Regions from separate parts of the Homo sapiens genome. Here region 1 is linked to region 2. Evidence: fine-mapped expression QTL. Tissue or cell type: non-classical monocytes. Region 2 holds a variant in brackets; the other region holds the start of a gene. All regions are shown on one strand. Distances are between the middles of the regions.

Region 1 (8,505 bases), 53 kb after region 2:
TCTGCCTGTGATCCCAGCTACTTGGGAGGCTGAGGTAGGAGAATCGCTTGAACTTGGGAGGTGAAGGTTGCAGTGAGCCGAGATCGTGCATTACACTCCAGCCTAGGCAGCAAGAGTGAAACTCCATCTCAAAAAAAAAAAAAAAAAGGGCCAGGCGCAGTGGCTCATGCCTGTAATCTCATCACTTTGGGAGGCTGAGGTGAGCAGATCACGAAATCGAGAGATCGAGACCATCCTGGCCAACATGGTGAAACCCCGTCGTACTAAAAATACAAAACTTAGCTGAGTGTGCTAGCGCACACCTGTAGTCCCAGCTACTCCGGAGGCTGAGGCAGGAGAATCACTTGAACTCGGGAGGAGGAAATTGCAGTGAGCCAAGATCGCGCCACTGCACTCCAGCCTGGTGACAGAGTGAGATTCTGTCTCAAGAAAAAGAAAAACAAAAAAGAAAGGGGAAGAGTTCTAGAGAACAGATTTCAAAAACTTGTTTTCTATTATATTTATAGCAGTATTCACATTGGAAGACCAGTGCAGTGACACACTTTCGTTATCCCAGCTACTCAGGTGGCTGAGGCAGGAGGATCACATAAGCCCAAGAGTTCAAGACCAGCCTGAGCCAAATAGTGAGAACCTGTCTCTAAAAATGAAATATAATCAAAAATTGAGATGACCCGATCTCCTCCCTTTCCAAAAAGTTGTTTTCTTGCTATTTCTCCAGAGTTGGTCAGGTTTTAAAAATTAATAATCTGGGGCAGTAGATGAAATTTCTGAAAATTATGTGCAGGTTTCCTTTTTTATTTTTGGATGGGCCCTAGGTATTAGAGGTGCTCTTTTTAAGTATCTACACAGCCTGCTAAATAAACACATTCAATTGGAAAGCAATGCTTTCCATTTCTTATTCTGTATCAAATATTTTACTTTCGGATTAACTTTCATTCTTATAGGGAAAAATAAATATTTCCAGTTTGAAATTCGTAAGATGGCATTGATAATAAGTAAATCTCTATAGATTTATGTGAAGTACAGTTACAGTAAGTCACCCATTTACAAATGGATTATATTTGAAAGTTTCATTTGAAGTAGGTTTGTTTTTTGGGGTTGGGATGCTTTTTCCTTGGAAAAAATACTTAATTAAACTTTTTTTTTTTTTGAGACAGAGTTTCACCCTTGTCACCCAGGCTGGAGTGCAATGGCATGATCTCAGCTCACTGCAACCTCCGCCTCCCGGGTTCAAGCAATTCTCCTGCCTCAGCCTCCCGAGAAGCTGGGATTACAGGCACATGCCAGCCACCATGCCTGGCTAATTTTTGTATTTTTAGTAGAGACAGGGTTTCACCACGTTGGCTAGGATGTTCTCAATCTCCTGACCTCAGGTAATCCATCCGCCACAGCCTCCCAAAGTTCTGGGATTACAGGTGTGAGCCACCCCGCCCTGCTTAAACTTTTAATTTTGAGATAATTATAGATTCAGATGTAGTTGTAAGAAATAGTACAAAGTGATCATGAGGGCTTTTTACCCAGTTTCTCCAGTGATAACATCTTGCAAAGCTATACAATAGTATCACAACCAGGATATTGACACTGATGTGGTCAATCCAATAGAAGAGTTCCAGAACAGGGGTCTCTCATGTGGCCCTGTTAAACCACCTCATCCCCATCCCTAACCTCTAACAACTCCCATCTCTTCTCCATTTCTATAATGTTGTCATCTGGGAAATGCTATGTAAGTGTACTCGTATAGTATCTAACATTTTGGGATTGGCTTTCTGTCACTCAGCATAATTTAATTCCCTGGATTCTTATCCAGGTCGTGGAACGTACTAATAATTTGTTCCTTTTTATTGTTGAGTAGTATTCCATGGTATGGATGTACCACAATGAGGATTGGGTAGAAGCTCATTGCTTTTGCCTAGGGGTGTCTAATTGCTCTAGCACTGTTTGTTGAATGGCACAGAAATCAGTTTGGCATATTCATGTGGGCCTGTCTCTGGGTTCTCCAGTCTGTTCCACTGATCTATGTTATGTGTCTCTCTTTTTGCCAATGCTGTGTTGTCTTGATTACTGTAGTTATCCAGTAGGCCTTAATATGGGATAGATTCATTGCTCTAACTTTTTTCTTCTTTTGAGACGGAGTCTCACTCTGTGGCCCAGGCTGGAGTGCAGTGGCATGATCTTGGCTCACTGCAACCTCTGCCTCCCAGGATTGGGTTCAAGCGATGCTCCTGCCTTAGCCTCCCTAGTAACTGGGATTACAGGTGTGCACCACCACGCCTGGCTAATTTTTCTGTATTTTTGATAGAGACAGTGTTTCACCATGTTCATTAGGCTGGTCTCGAACTCCTGACCTCAGGTGATCCACCCGCCTCGGCCTACCAAAGTGCTGGGATTACAGGCATGAGCCACCACGCCCAGACTAACTTTTTTCTTCTTTTTCAAGATGGTTTTTAGCTATTCTAGGGCCTGTACCTTTACTATAAATTTTAGAATATCTGCCAAAAATCACTGTGAGGCCAGGCAGGGTGGCTCACACCTGTAATCCTAGCACTTAAGAAGGCCGAAGTGGGAGGACAGCTGGAGCCCAGGAGTTCAAGACAAGCCTGGCCAACCTAATGAGACTCCATCTCTACAAAAACTAAGAAATTAAAAAATTAGCCCAGTGTGGTGGTGCACATCTGTAGCCCCAGATATTCAGGAGGCTGAGGCAGGAGGACTGCCTCCTGGGGAGGTTGAGGCTGCAGTGAGCCATGATTGCACACCTCTACTCCAGCCTGGACAACAGAGCAAGACCATGTCTCAAAAAAACAAAACAAAACAAAACAAAACAAAAAAACCTTGCAAGATTTTGATAGGAATTTTGTTAATCTGTAGATCAGTTTGGGGACAATTGACATCTTTTGTGTGTTGATTTTTCTTCCAATTCATGATTATCATCATTGGAAAGAAGTGAGTATGATGAGTCTTCTAAGCCAGGCAGATAGCAAAAAAATTAGGAAAGTAAATGGATTGCACAGGAAGAATTAACTGGGATTTAAATAATCAAAGACAGAAAGGATATATAAAAGAAGTGACGAAGGAGATTTACCCTATTAGACTCCAGTGTATTAATCTAGGACAGTTTGGTTGCTATGGGGAAGCAGTGTGCAAAAACTTAAGAGGCACACAAAAGACTGATGTTTATTTTGTGGGAGTGAATCTTTTTTTAGGAAGGAAATAGCACTATTGTGGTAACAGTGATTCATTTTCTCCTCCTATCTTCTCTTTACAGAGAAGACCCAAATAGTGAACTGTTTCATGTAAGTTTTTATTTATTTTTGCCCTACTTTTCTCTAGGGAGGGGCTTACCACAGCTTATAAAAATACGTAAAACAAGATCAAATAAACTTTAAAATGAGGAAAAAGCCAATATGGTCCAAGGGAAAAGAAGATCAGGGTCAGGACTGAGATTAGGATGCAAAAGCCATGCTATGAAATTTTGTTTGTTTGTTATCTTGAGATGGGTAAAAAAAAAAAAAAACAGTTGACTGGGACAAATACCCCTAGCACAAAACAGTCATGAAGCCAATGTTTAATTATTATACCTGTCATCTTTTCACCTGGCCTCAGGACTGTCCTCTTAGGGAGAGGCATTGTTCTGTAGGGTTAATTAGTAACAGGAATTTAGATCCTGCTTTGAGAGGCCTCCTGTGCTGGCCGAAGCAGCTGGTGGTCTGAGAACCCTGACACCCAGAGGCATACCACTGGGAGGCCCCGCGCAGCACACAGCTTTTGCTGTACTCCAGCCCAAGTCTTATGGGGTTTGTGGTTTATACTGAAGTTGGTGCAGACAATTAAGACTCTCTGTTCTTGGTACCGACAGGGACAGAGACCTACAATTGTAAGTATTTTGTAAACAGGGTTGTGATATTTGTTTGAGTGTATTCAACATGTCAGTGGCCTTTTAATGTTTAAAAAAATGCATATGGCCATTTAAGAAGTGGTTGTGCTTCATAGTTAATATTTTTTTCATTAGGTTAGGTTCATCTGGTTTTTCAGTGAGGTGAGCTACCTGAGAGCCATAGGAAGATAGATCTTGCCAGTTCAGAGGACTGACTTTGGCTTTAAGAGAAAATATTTGTGTCATTTTCGAGAAAGTACTTCCAGCACAATGCTTTCTTCTGATGATTCATTTTCTACAGTTATTGGAAGTGGGAAGAAATCCACAGAGGTTACAGAATTTGTAAACTTGTAGAGACATGTGCCATTATATCATGCTGTTTCATAGATGTGTATGTCTGTTAGTTACTTTTCGGGCATTCATTGTATATATGTCTGTTACTTACTTTTGGGGTGTTCAGTGTCTGAGCTTTGTCAACGATTGTGTGCTCTTTTTTTAGCCTAAAAAAACTAAGTTAGAGAAATGTTTGCTCATCCAAATCTGTATTGTTGTAGCTTATTCAGTAGACTGCTGTTGTATTTTTAATTTCTCTATACAACAAGCTGAAAGACAGTGTGGACAACCTAATTGCATTTGAAGTAGCTGCTGGCCAGGCCTGCTGCAACAGCTGATGGGCTCCTCTGAATTTCCAGGGCTATTTCTGGTAGATGAGCTGGTATCAAGGCTCTCGAGTTCAGGCCATAAAAGGCCCGTCCCATGTGAAGTTGCTTCACTGCTCTGACTGCGTCCTCCCCAGGCTGAAGTGTCCTCAGGTTTCATGTGGATTTGCCCAGTAATGGATGGCTCCACCGAGGCCAGGTTGGGGAAGTTCAGCCTCGAGGACACTAGGGGACGAAAAACTTCAAAAAGAAGACTCTTTTTATTAATATTTTGGCGTTCTTTTTGGAGAGGAACTTTTGGGATGTAGCCTTTACCTGTTTCCTGAATTTGACATCCAAAAAGCCTTTTGGAAAACACCATTCTAAATTTATCCTGTTCTGAATCATCATCGCTTCTGATAGATGCAGTTGCTTGCTGACATCGTGATCTTTGATTTTGTACAACGCTATTTGGGCTAACTTTTGGGATTTTACTTTGTGCTTAGAATTTGAAAGTAGTATTCATTGGAAAGAGACTCCAAGAAAATACTCGAAGACATCAAAAGCTGGATTCGAGGGTATAACGTGTTTTGTTTTGTTTTTTAAATTAGAAAAATAAGGAATTGCAGTGTGATTTTCTTTCCCCCTTTAACTTAGAGGAACGAGGATTATACAGAAATTTGAAGTAAGTGAAAAATCTTCCTATAAATCTAAATGCAGTAGGTTTTTTTTTGTTGTTTTTGTTTTTGCTTTTTTTTAAGTGCCATCTGTCTGAGCATGTTTCCTGAGGATTTGTTGACTTCAGTCATTGGAAAATTCCTGCCAGCGTTTGCCAGTTACTGCAGCCATTCCTGTAGATACCCTTGGGCATATTTCTTGGGTTGAGAAGGATTGGACTTTTTTTTTTTTTTAAAGGATTTACTTTATGGTAGAGAAAGGTTTAATACTAAAAATTTGATTAATATAACTTAGTACATTCTGTCTAAATGTTAGCACTTAAAGTCTTGGAATTAAAGTATATTCACAATGCAACGTACTTTAATAATCGTAGCACAAGTATGGGGGTGGAGTTCAGAAGGGCAAGTTTTATTTCACTGCCATTATAATTCATGTAAAAATAGAAAATCACCAGTGATCCTTTTGCATAATCTTTGTTCTGAGGGTTCTTTGCCTTGGTACTCTCATTCTTCAGGGCTTGATTTCTAGAACTTGCGATGTTCCAGAATTTATGAGAAAAACCTCACTGTAGGTTCTAGAGTTTGAACTGCATTTTATTTTTAAATTCTCCAAGAAAAAATACTGCATCAGCCTTTTAAAGCCCTGGAGATTGCTATGGTCTCTTTGTAATTTAGCTCAGTGATTTGTTTCTGCTGAAAAACAGCAGTGAACTCTAGAACATAGAAGGCTTATTTGACGTGTTGCTTCTTTGAAAAAAAAAAAAGATTATTTCTTTATACCACATCAGATGGACAAGTACGGGCAGTCATTATTTTTACCAGGTAGGAAAACAGAGTATTTATAGAGAAGAACTTCATCGGTGAATACTGCGAGGGTTCTTCACCGGAGATAGTGTGGCAACCCTAGGGGGCGTTTGAAAATGCATGGGGGTGTTTCAGGTTTTCTCAATGACTCACTGGCATTTGGGAGGATGTGGTTAAGAATTGTAAATGCCCAATTTACATGGTGTAGGGGACAGTCCCATACAGCATTACCCTGGCCAAACTGCTGGTGGTATCCCCTGTTGAGTAAAACTGCAGGATATAAATTGTACCCTCTGTCTCCAAAGAAGAGCAGCCCAGTGCCAGGCAGATGTGTGCTGTCTCTTCTCACCAAAACCAGTGATGTCTTTTTTTTTTTTTTTTTTTTTTGAGATGGAGTCTCGTGCTGTCACCCAGGCTGGAGTGCAGTGGCACGATCTCGGCTCACTGCAACCTCCACCTCCCAGGTTCAAGTGACTCTCCTTGCCTCAACCTCCCAAGTAACTGGGATTACAGGCACCTGGCACCATATCCAGCTAATTTTTTTTTGTATTTTTAGTAGAGACGGGGTTTCACTATGTTGGCCAGGCTGATCTTGAACTCCTGACCTCGTGATCCGCCCACCTTGGGCTCCCAAAGTGCTGGGATTATAGGCGTGAGCCCCTGCACCCGGCACCCGGTGATGTCTTGAGGATCCAGGGCATCAAGTGTGCACTAGTGTCAGAGAATTTGTCTTACAATGGAAACTTTGGAGTCTATACTCTGTGTGTGTGTGTGTGTGTGTGTTAAAGATAATTTATTTGGTCACCTTGATCACTGGATGAGGCTGATGTTATACAAGCTATTGTAGTACATTAGGTGCCTTCCTGCCTACCTTTATTTAGTACTATTGGTGCATTTAATTTTGCCACATGCATAGTCTTCCAAGTGAAATTTGGTTAATGCGCTCAGCTTGCAGTGGACATCAGTCAGCCATTCAACAAACAGTTCTTTATCTTTGCTTCTACTTTGGAGACAGACTGTTTTGTGATAAACAGACTTCTGGAAGACTTTGGAGTTCAATTCAGAGTGAACATCTTTGGCAACACCTGGGGTTATATAGTATTCTTTTTTTCTTTTTTCTTTTTTTTTTTTTTGAGATGGAGTCTTGCTCTGTTGCCCAGGCTGGAGTGCAATGACACAATCTCAGCTCACTGCAACCTCCACCTCTTGGGCTGAAGTGATTCTCCTGCCTCAGCCTCCCTACTAGCTGGGATTACAGGCATATGCCACTGCGCCCAGCTAATTTTTGTATTTTTAGTAGAGACAGGGTTTCATCATGTTGCCCAGGTTGGTCTTGAACTCCTGACCTCAGGTGATCTACCAGCGCTCGGCCTCCCAAAGTTCTGGGATTACAGGCATGAGCCACCACACCCGGCGAGTTATTTAATATTCTACAGTTGAGGAATTGCATCCAAAGGAAAGGGCCCTTGGGATTTTTATAAGGATGTCTGGTGAGCTCCAGCATGCAGGGCTCTCGGGCTACATGGAGCGTTATGGAGAGTAAGCTGCTAGGAGCCTTGTGATTGTTAGGGTACAAAGGCAGCCTTGGAATCATCTCCTGAATCTGCAGCTGCCTGGGATTTTAGGACACTCATTGCAATTTTATGTTAAAGCGCTGATCTCAGGGTGCCTTGCTGTGACTGGGAGTATCCGTAGGTCTAGAACTTTCCAGCAGTTCTGGGCTTCATTGATTTGTGACTCAACTAGGAATCTTCTGGTCACCCTTGACTCCTCTCCCTTTAGGTCCCCGAGGCCTCTGCCCCACCACCTCCTCTTAAGCCTCGCCATCTTTTTTATTTTTTATTTTTTTGAGATGGAGTCTCACTCTGTCAGCCAAGCTGGAGTGCAATGGCACAATCTCGGCTCACTGCAATCCCTGCCTCCCGGGTTCAAGGGATTCTCCTGCCACAGCCTCCTGAGTAGCTGGGATTACAGGTGTCCGCCACCACGCCCGGCTAATTCTTGTATATTTAGTAAAGATGGGGTTTCACCATGTTGGTCAGGCTGGTCTCGAAATCCTGACCTCATGATCTGCCCACCTCGGCCTCCCAAAGTGCTGGGATTACAGGTGTCCGCCACCACGCCCGGCTAATTCTTGTATATTTAGTAAAGATGGGGTTTCACCATGTTGGTCAGGCTGGTCTCGAAATCCTGACCTCATGATCTGCCCACCTCGGCCTCCCAAAGTGCTGGGATTACAGGCATGAGCCACCGCGCCTGGCCTCGCCTCGCCATCTCTTACCTGGGCTACTGCTTTGCCCTTAATGGATCCCTTGGCCCTCGGTTTCTCCTCCGTCTGGTCTAGCCACAGAATGACCTTCCTAAACAAAGATCTCATCTTGCACTCGGCCAGGGCCAAACCCTCATCGTTCCTCACTGCTTACATGCAAAAGCCTGGGCTCTGTAGCCTCCCCTTCAGGGTCTTTCATGCCCCTGGAGTTCTGTTGGCAAGTCTCCCCAAAATGTTGTCTTC
Region 2 (8,505 bases):
CATCGTCTCATATGGTTGTTAGTGAGTCTAGTAATGCATTTCCTTTAAAAGGCAGTTTTCATGTTGACGAACCTCTACTTGCTTCTACTTGTAAGCCAGAATGCCAAAAACAAGAAACCAAGTTCACGATTCTTTGTTTTCTATGATTTGACGAAGGTTTCTGGCATGAGAACCTTCTTTTTGTAGCTGTAAAGCAACTGAGGTTCTTCACTGAGGTTGACAGTGTCTTAGCTGAGTGAGCTGCGGCAGGGATTCCCCTGTTTCCTGTGTTTCCAGTTGCTTATTGGCTGATCCAACTTCCAGATGGGTGCTAATTTCATTCCAGGAAGGGGACCAGAGCTGAGCAGCTCATCTGTTTTCCTTAGCGTGCTGCTCAGTTATTTGAAAGGGTGATTTGAGCTTATTTTTCTTCTTGTTTGTAGACAACAGTGGTGAGATAATTCGAGTGTCTACCTATAACAGAGTGTTACAGGGATTCCGTAATCTTTGCTCTCCAGCATCTGTTGGCCGGGGTAGATGGGGGGTTTGTTGTCCTTGGAAACCTGGAAGGAACTATTAGTCATGTCTTAATCCTGAGCCATAAATTTACACTCATTTGAGAGATAAGCAAATTTGGCAGAAAGACTGAGTCAAAAATCTTTGTCTTGATCTCTGAGACAGGATTAGTGGACAAACTAAATCATAAATTATTTATTATTTTGGTCACAGAAGCTGGAGCGTCGCCAAGAAAAGAATCTTTAAAAATTATTCATTATTGGGGCTGGGCGCGGTGGCTCACGCCTGTAATCCCAGCACTTTGGGAGGCCCAGGTGGGTGGATCACGAGGTCAGGAGATCGAGACCATCCTGCCTAACACGGTGAAACACCGTCTCTACTAAAAATACAAAAAATTAGCCGGGCGTGGTGGTGGGCGCCTGTAGTCCCAGCTACTCGGGAGGCTGAGGCTGGAGAATGGCGTGAACCTGGGAGGTGGAGCTTGCAGTGAGCCGAGATCGCACCACTGCACTCCAGCCTGGGCGACAGAGTGAGACTCCGTCTCAAAAAAAAAAAAAAAAATTATTCATTATCCAACATACTTTACATTGTTCATTATTGGTCATTTAGGCTCCAAATACTGTTACAGATTGAAAAGTAAGAGAAAAAAAAATCTTTCTACTATAGAACATTGCAGTTTTATTTAATGGGAAAAATATTCTTTTAGTCTTTTTACTCTTCCAGAAGAAAATGTTCCACTGAATAATTGATGCTTCTAAAATGAAGCTTTGCGTTTTATGATACTAGAATAGCTTTCATTATCTGAACGAATGAATGTTAGCCCTGAATATTAACTATCTTCATATAAAAAACATTTGAACGTAAGAAAAATCAGCCAACTTGATTGTTCTCAGGTAAAGTTCAGACCATGAATTATACAGAACCCCAGATAATTGCAGATGATGGAACTAATCACAATATGCAAATCAGCAATGATTAACAACCATATGCAGGTGTTCTCATGGGTTGTGTTCGAATGAAATAGGATATTAAAACTGGAAACTTAATTATGTAATTCAGGATGATAAATACATTATTATGCTTTCACCTTTTTTAAAAGAATTGAGACAAATGTAGTCATTTGTGATTTTGTAATCTTTGTTTTTATTTTATATAAATTAAAATATAAAATTCATTATTTTTTATGACAGACAGGTGAAATAAAAACATAGGGCCTTCTAGTATTGCATATTCTGATCTGAAGTTCTGCTTCTGAAATGTATGCTTGGTTCTAAATGATATAAATAGCCTCCATATTACTGACTTATACTTCTAAAACTTCTTTCTGAAGATTCAACAGCAGATCCTTGTTATCCAAGGATAATGAGAACCAGAAAAAAGGCCATTTAAGGTCAATCCACTTAAATGGGGACCAACATTTCATATAATGAAAAAAAGCTTTGGGACTTTATCATGAAAAAAATTAACTGAAAACTATGAAAATAAGTTATTTTAGCATACATTTATCAAAATTTAGGTGATCATTGTGACTATGGCTAGCTCTTAGAATGAGCAGTGTGAAAGTCAAGTGTTGATTATTTTGAAAGGAGTAAATTTTTTGTATAAAATGAGGCGATTCTACATTTTGGTACTTTTTATATCACAATTGACATTTACATCACAGCATAAAGATGACCAGTGTTACAAAGATATTCAAGGTCTTGGTCATTTTCCTCTGGAGCCGTTTAGATTTTTAAATACTAAAATCACTGTAGAAAGTTCTATCTTGTCACCAACGTTAGATTTTTCTCTGAAGTGATTGTTTCCTAATCAAACTGCTCAGCTCCCACTGGCCATTGTTTTACCTGTTATTGGGGAAATTCTCTAATGCCATTTTGATTAGCCTCATGAAATTCTGTATTTGGGGGAAAGTTTTGCAGTGTTGCTCTGCAGTGGACATACATCTGTGGGAGGTACGAGACAGTCACTAACAGAATTAGGGATAGAGGCTGACTTTGAACAATGATGGATTTTTAAGAGGGACTCAAGTCAAAAAAATGGCTATTTGGAAATATTTTAGTATTTTGAAGGTGTGCTTCCCTGAACAAGCCCATCATTTGTAGGGATTTGGGTCATGAATACTCCAATAACAAGGGCTCCCTGACCTGTGTGTATGAATGCATTGCAGTATGCAGTATGAAAAAGAGACTCGGCTGGGCGCGGTGGCTCGCGCCTGTAATCCCAGCACTTTGGGAGGCCGAGATGGGCAGATCACGAGGTCAGGAGTTCGAGACCAGCCTGGCCAATATAGTGAAACCCCATCTCTACTAAAAATACAAAAAGTTAGCCGGATGTGTTGGTGTGTGCCTGTAATCCCCACTACTCGGGAAGCTGAGGCAGGAGAATCACATGAACCCGGGAGGCGGAGGTTGCAGAGAGCTGAGATCGCGCCAGGGCACTCCAGCCTGGGTGATAGTGCGAGACTCTGTCTCAAAAAAAAAAGAAAACAAAGAAAAGAGACTCATGAGTCGGGGAGATACCAGTTCTAGCCTCAGTTCTGCCAGTGGGTAGCTGTATACGCATGGATGAATCACTTCCTTTTGGCATAAATTTACTTATCTGTGAAAAGAAAAAGTTGAGCTAAGGTCCCTTCTACTCATTCTGTGATTCTAAATTGGATATTTTGAGTTGGGGAAGAGCTATATCACTGTTTGCATAATTCCTAGAGCTTAGCAAATATCAACAACTCCTTCTTTTAGTTTATTTGCACTGTATATATATGTGCCTTTTATGATTTCAGTATCTTCATCCATATGTAATTATGCTCTGGGTAAAGTTGTAAACAGCACTTTGGTAAAATTTTAAATTCTGCTCTTTTCACTAGTCTTATCTCATAAATGTTTGCATATATATTGTAAACTTAACATTTTTCTCTGTTTTCACATTTACCTTTCCTAATAGCTGATAGCACATAATAAGTGTATTAAAACATATACTTAAAACATATTTAAATATATTAAAACATACTGATACACATCCTGATCACTGGGCAACTGAGCATCTCCATACTTCAGAGATTTTTTTATGTTTTTTTGGGCCGTGTTACCCTAGACATTTTTGTAGATAGATAATTTTTTAAAAAGAGCTCCTCACACTTGTAGCTCAGTTCTGTGTGCATTTCAGTGCTCAAATGACTTTTGCCACTGCTGTAAACAGGAAGAAACAAACTAAGGCAAAGAGCCCAGCTAAGTGAAACAGAGAGGAACAAAAGAAAATTAGAACTTGGCTTTTGCTGCTGCCAAGCTGGGCAAATAGCGATCCCAGGGAGCCTGGTGTTAAATAACAAAGAAAGCAGGGAACGAGGCAGAAATCCCAGTGGGATCTGAACGGCATCTTCAGATGCTTGGCTGCCCCTGCCACACTCTAGGGAGCATCTGATCACCTGGGAGGTATGGTGACCTTTGGCTTCTGACGTTGCACTGGTCAGACCAACCGTCTCCAGAGAGCTAAGCCATCAATCATCCCCTGAGGGGAGACAGTCAGGCTCACTGCCTCACCGCCTCGAAGCATCCACAAACTGAATTAGCTAATGCTACATTATTAGACATTTCTGCACTTTTCATTTATATTCAGAAGCTTGGAAATTTTCAATGTGTCTTTGGGGGAAAATAGTTTGTTCAACCATTATAATTAGATTTTCTACCCCTTATCTAGATAAATGAAGCGTAATTGACACTTTCCCCTTCTACCGGGGAAAGTGTCATTGCTGCTTCTGCATATGTGTGTGAACTATTTGCAATGCTTGTTTCTCATGGCTTACCCCAGAACTAGGGCGGTTATTGGGCAAGAAAGGGAACTATCCATTGCTGAAACTGGGAGTAACTTGTGATAACCAAA[T/AT]TAGTGACTGAGGCAAAAGTCTCAGTCGATGAGTTTATTAAGCCATCTTAAGGGCATAATCCAGGGGAAAAACAAATGCCATAGACAGACCTGTGGCTGTTATTCCAAAGAAGTTTTCAGGAGGTTTAGTATTTATACCTTTTCTTAAAGGGGGAAGGCATTGTAGAAAAAGGGGCAGGTAGGTGGTAAAGCAAATTTACGGGGTTTTTGTTTGTTTGTTTATTGAGAAAGAGTCTCAACTCTGTCACCCAGGCTGGAGTGCGGTGGCGCGATCTTGGCTAACTGCAACCTCCCTTCCCAGATTGAAGCAATCCTCCTGCCTCAGCACAAGTGTGCACTACCACGGCTGCCTAATTTTTGTATTTTTGGTAGAGACGGGGGTTTTGCCATGTTGGCAAGGCTGGTTTGAAACTGCTGACCTCAGGTGATTCACCTGCCTCAGCCTCCCAAAGTGTTGGGATTACAGGCATGAACCACCTCACCTGGCCAAACTTGACATTTTTGGGAGATTTTATTTAGTGCCCAGTAAATCTACATTTTGCATACGGTAAGGTGAATGTTTGAAGAGAAAAAAGGGAATAAAGGAAGAATCAATTATGCAGAGTTTTTGGGTAGGTGGAGGAATGATTGATCTGGTCTTGTCTTTGTTCTATACCAGGGAAGATAAGCTTGTAATTGACATTATCAGTGCGGAATCGAATAGACTTTAGTTTTAAGAGCTAGACTTAGATTGTAAACATAAAATTACAATTGGCATGTCCTTGTTTATGGGAGGGCAGCAAAAAGTTTACTTACCTATGGAGGCAGTCCTGAGGCCTTCTCCTCTGGATAATGCTAGTAACAGCTCTTCATTTGAAAGAGGGTGTTGCATGACTCAGCCTCCAGGCTTAATCTTTTATTTTGCGTAAGGAGTTTGGGGGTCTTGAGATTTTTTTAAATATTCCCTTGCACGTGGTTGTTTGCAAGAAGTAATGGCAAAGCCTGGTTAAAGTGGATTCAATCAAAACAATTTTAGTCATGATTTAAATTACCAAGTAGGAAAAATCTAGAGGATTCTAGAAATTGTGTGTCAGTTTCAAATCCTACTGTGCTGGTCATATGGAAGTGAGGAATATTGATAAAGTAAGAAGCAGTGCGGTATTTCCAGAGGTTAAATGCAAACCGATTCATTCCATTTCATTTAAGTATATATTTCTAGGCTTTGGAAATTACATCCTATGATTTTTTTAAAACTTTTCTCCCCCAGATTCTGGCTACATTGGAGATTGGTTGCTTTCTAAAACTGAAGGAGAAGCCCATGAAGAGATGGTGGATTCTCACTGAGTTTTGACTAGCGGAAGAAAAGGTAATTATTGATGATTTCGGAATATGTTTGCAGTATCATGTGGAGTTCAGCTGCAGTAGCAGCAAAGACAAAACTGAGAGTTTTAGACATTTTCTGTTATAATAACAACTGGTACCACTCTAATTTCATTGTGTGAGATGGACTTTTTAAAAACAAAACTTAAAATGTTCTTCTTAAATAAGCTTTTCCAGGTAGGTCTACCTGAGGATTAAGGTGTTACCATCAAAGCAGTTGACTCCTTTCCTTAGACCATGTTCCTGGGCCTGATTCCCAGCTTGTTCTGTGTGACAGCCTCACATTTATAGGGATTATGAAAGAATTTCCAAGATAGAGGTTACAGGAAGACCACTAAAGTGTAGGAACTCATTTTAATCACAGGTTCCTTGCTTGTCCATTCTGAAAGTATCAGTTTATTTTTTCTCTCTACTTCAAGTTGCTCTGCCTAATGATTGGATTTATAGTTAAAAATAAACCATATTTAAATTCATATTGATCTACTTTGTTAGGCAAATTGGTCCTAGGGCCAATGGGTGGAAGATATAAAGAAACAGATTTGAATTCAGTATAAGGAGGATTTTTTGAACATCTGACTGACTAATGAATGGGTTGCCTGGCCTGGACGAAGCTCTCCATTGATGGAGATATTTCTATTGTAAACCAAAGATTAAATTCTAAGCCAAGTGACTGAATGGAACATCCTCTCAGCCAAGGGACCCAACAAAACCTGAAAAATTAGTTCAGATCATGATGGAAAGGGAGGGTCAGGCATGCCTCATTACACTCTCCTCCCTTTGGAGTTCAGGCAAACAACTGACCAGCATTAACTTTTCAAAAGAAGACATACACGTGGCCAACAAGCATGTAAAAAAATGCTCAGCATCACTAATCATTAGAGAAATGCAAGTCAAAACCACAGTGAGATACCATTTCACACCAGTCAGAATGGCTACTGTTAAAAAGTCAGAAAATAACAGATGCCGGCGAGGTTGTGGAGAAAAGGAAATGCTTATACATTGTTGGTGAGAGTGTAAATTAGTTCATCGTGGAAAGCAGTGTGACAATTCCTTGAAGAACTTAAAGCAGAATTAACATTTGACCCAGCAATCCCATTACTGGCTATAGACCCAAACGTGTATACATTGTTCTGCCATAAGGGCACATGTACACATATGTTCATCACAACACCATTCTCAATAGCAAGACATGGAATCAACCTAAATGCCCATCAATGGTAGTAGACTAGATAAAGAACATGTGGTGCATATACACTATGGAATACTACACAGACATGAGAAAGAACGAGATCATGTCCTTTGCAGCAACATGGATAGAGCTGGAGGCCATTATCCTTAGCAAACTAATGCAGGAACAGAAAACCAAATACCGTATGTACTCATGCATAAGTGGAAGCTAAACAATGGGAACACCTGGATACTAGGAGGGGAACAACAGATACTGGGGCCTACTTGAGAGTGGAGGCTTGGGGGAGAGAAAAGATCAGAAAAAATACTCATTGGGTACTACGCTTCCTACCTGGGTGATGATCTGTACACCAAACCCCTGTGACACACAGTTTTACCTACGTAATAAACCTGCACGTGTAATACCCCTGAACCTAAAATAAAAGTTAAAAAAAAATAAAGGTCCTAAGACTGACAGAACAGTAAGATACCAAATTCCAACCTGACTCTACTGTAGCATCATATGGTCCATAGCAGGCACTGAAAACAAATCACAGTATTTTATCCCTTTGACATATTTTGAAATAGCTTTGTAAAGCTGTTTCTTTTGGGAGAAATTTACATTCCATAGAGAATCCTTTCCCTTTCCAGGTCTTTTCCTAATACTGAAGAGATTGGCTGAGAGTCTAGCACCTTTTAACGGTCTGCATAGGAAGCATTGACCATCTATTGCGTTTGGGGGCAGCCACCTATGAGACTATGAGACTTCATCTACATAAGAACTTTTGCCTCCACAACCCCCATATTAACCCAAACACTCCTCTCCTTTCTGTTTATTCCAGGTCTTTAGACAATAACTTAACTCTTTCAACCAATTTCCAGACAGAAAATCTTTGACTCCACCTATGACCTGTAAGCCCCCACCCCCCAAGTTGTCCCGCCTTTCTGGATCGAACCAGTGTATACCTTCCATGTATTGATTAATGTCTTCTGTCTCTGTAAAGCACATAAAACCAAGCTGTAACCCAACCGCCTTGGGTACATGTTCTCAGGAGCTCTTGAGTCTGTGTCACAGGTCATGATCCATAACCTTGGCAAAATAAACTTCTAAATTGACTGAGACCTGTCTCAGATACTTTTTGGTTCACACTATAGAAACTCTGTGTTTGTCTGACAAGGATGTTGCTGCAGAAGAGCCTCCCTGAACTGGAGTTGGTCAAACTGAATCTTCCTAGGTCTATTTTAACCAAAAGGAATTCTACAGTTTCTCTATTGATGGCCCAAAGGAAGCAGAGTTTTTTGGAGTTTTTTTCGGTGGGGGTGGTTGGCTTTTTGTTTTCACACATTAAAAAAATTACGCAAAGATGTTCAACTCAATTATGGCACTTGTAATTTCTGGTGCTTCTGTCATGATTTGGGGTGACTTTCATGAAATGCTTATTCTCAAGCATATTTCCTGACCAGTGTGCCATGAGGTTAGAGAGGCTATTCAGAGTGAGGATGATTTTGTGCTTCCATGGTGAAGTGCAGCACAGAGGGGTTCTCTGGGGCAAGTTGGGGGAGCCCAGAGTGCATGGAGAGTGAGGGCCTGGCACAGGCTGTGTTTGG

Alleles and levels. Alleles are on the strand shown, and positions count from the first base shown. SD is a standard deviation of normalised expression in the study named.
For the expression in non-classical monocytes of the gene that starts at base 4,646 in region 1, AT is the low allele of the variant in region 2 and T is the other (large effect, 0.77 SD a copy in Schmiedel 2018).

What was found. PIP is the estimated chance that this variant, and not a neighbour inherited with it, causes the effect.
Region 1: SVIL starts here. The variant in region 2 is fine-mapped to the expression of SVIL in non-classical monocytes (Schmiedel 2018, PIP 0.95).

What each region holds. Positions count from the first base shown.
Region 1 is chr10:29,631,112-29,639,616 of GRCh38, reverse strand. SVIL (supervillin) reads left to right here and starts at 4,646. Exons shown (of 38, transcript NM_021738.3): 1 at 4,646-5,197. RefSeq lists an enhancer at 94-595 and a silencer at 4,543-4,837.
Region 2 is chr10:29,683,764-29,692,268 of GRCh38, reverse strand. It overlaps a transcript of SVIL not described here. Among named protein-coding and RNA genes, the nearest start is that of SVIL, 53 kb to the right of the region's middle. RefSeq lists an enhancer at 3,491-4,109. The variant T/AT (reference allele first, on the strand shown) is at 4,372.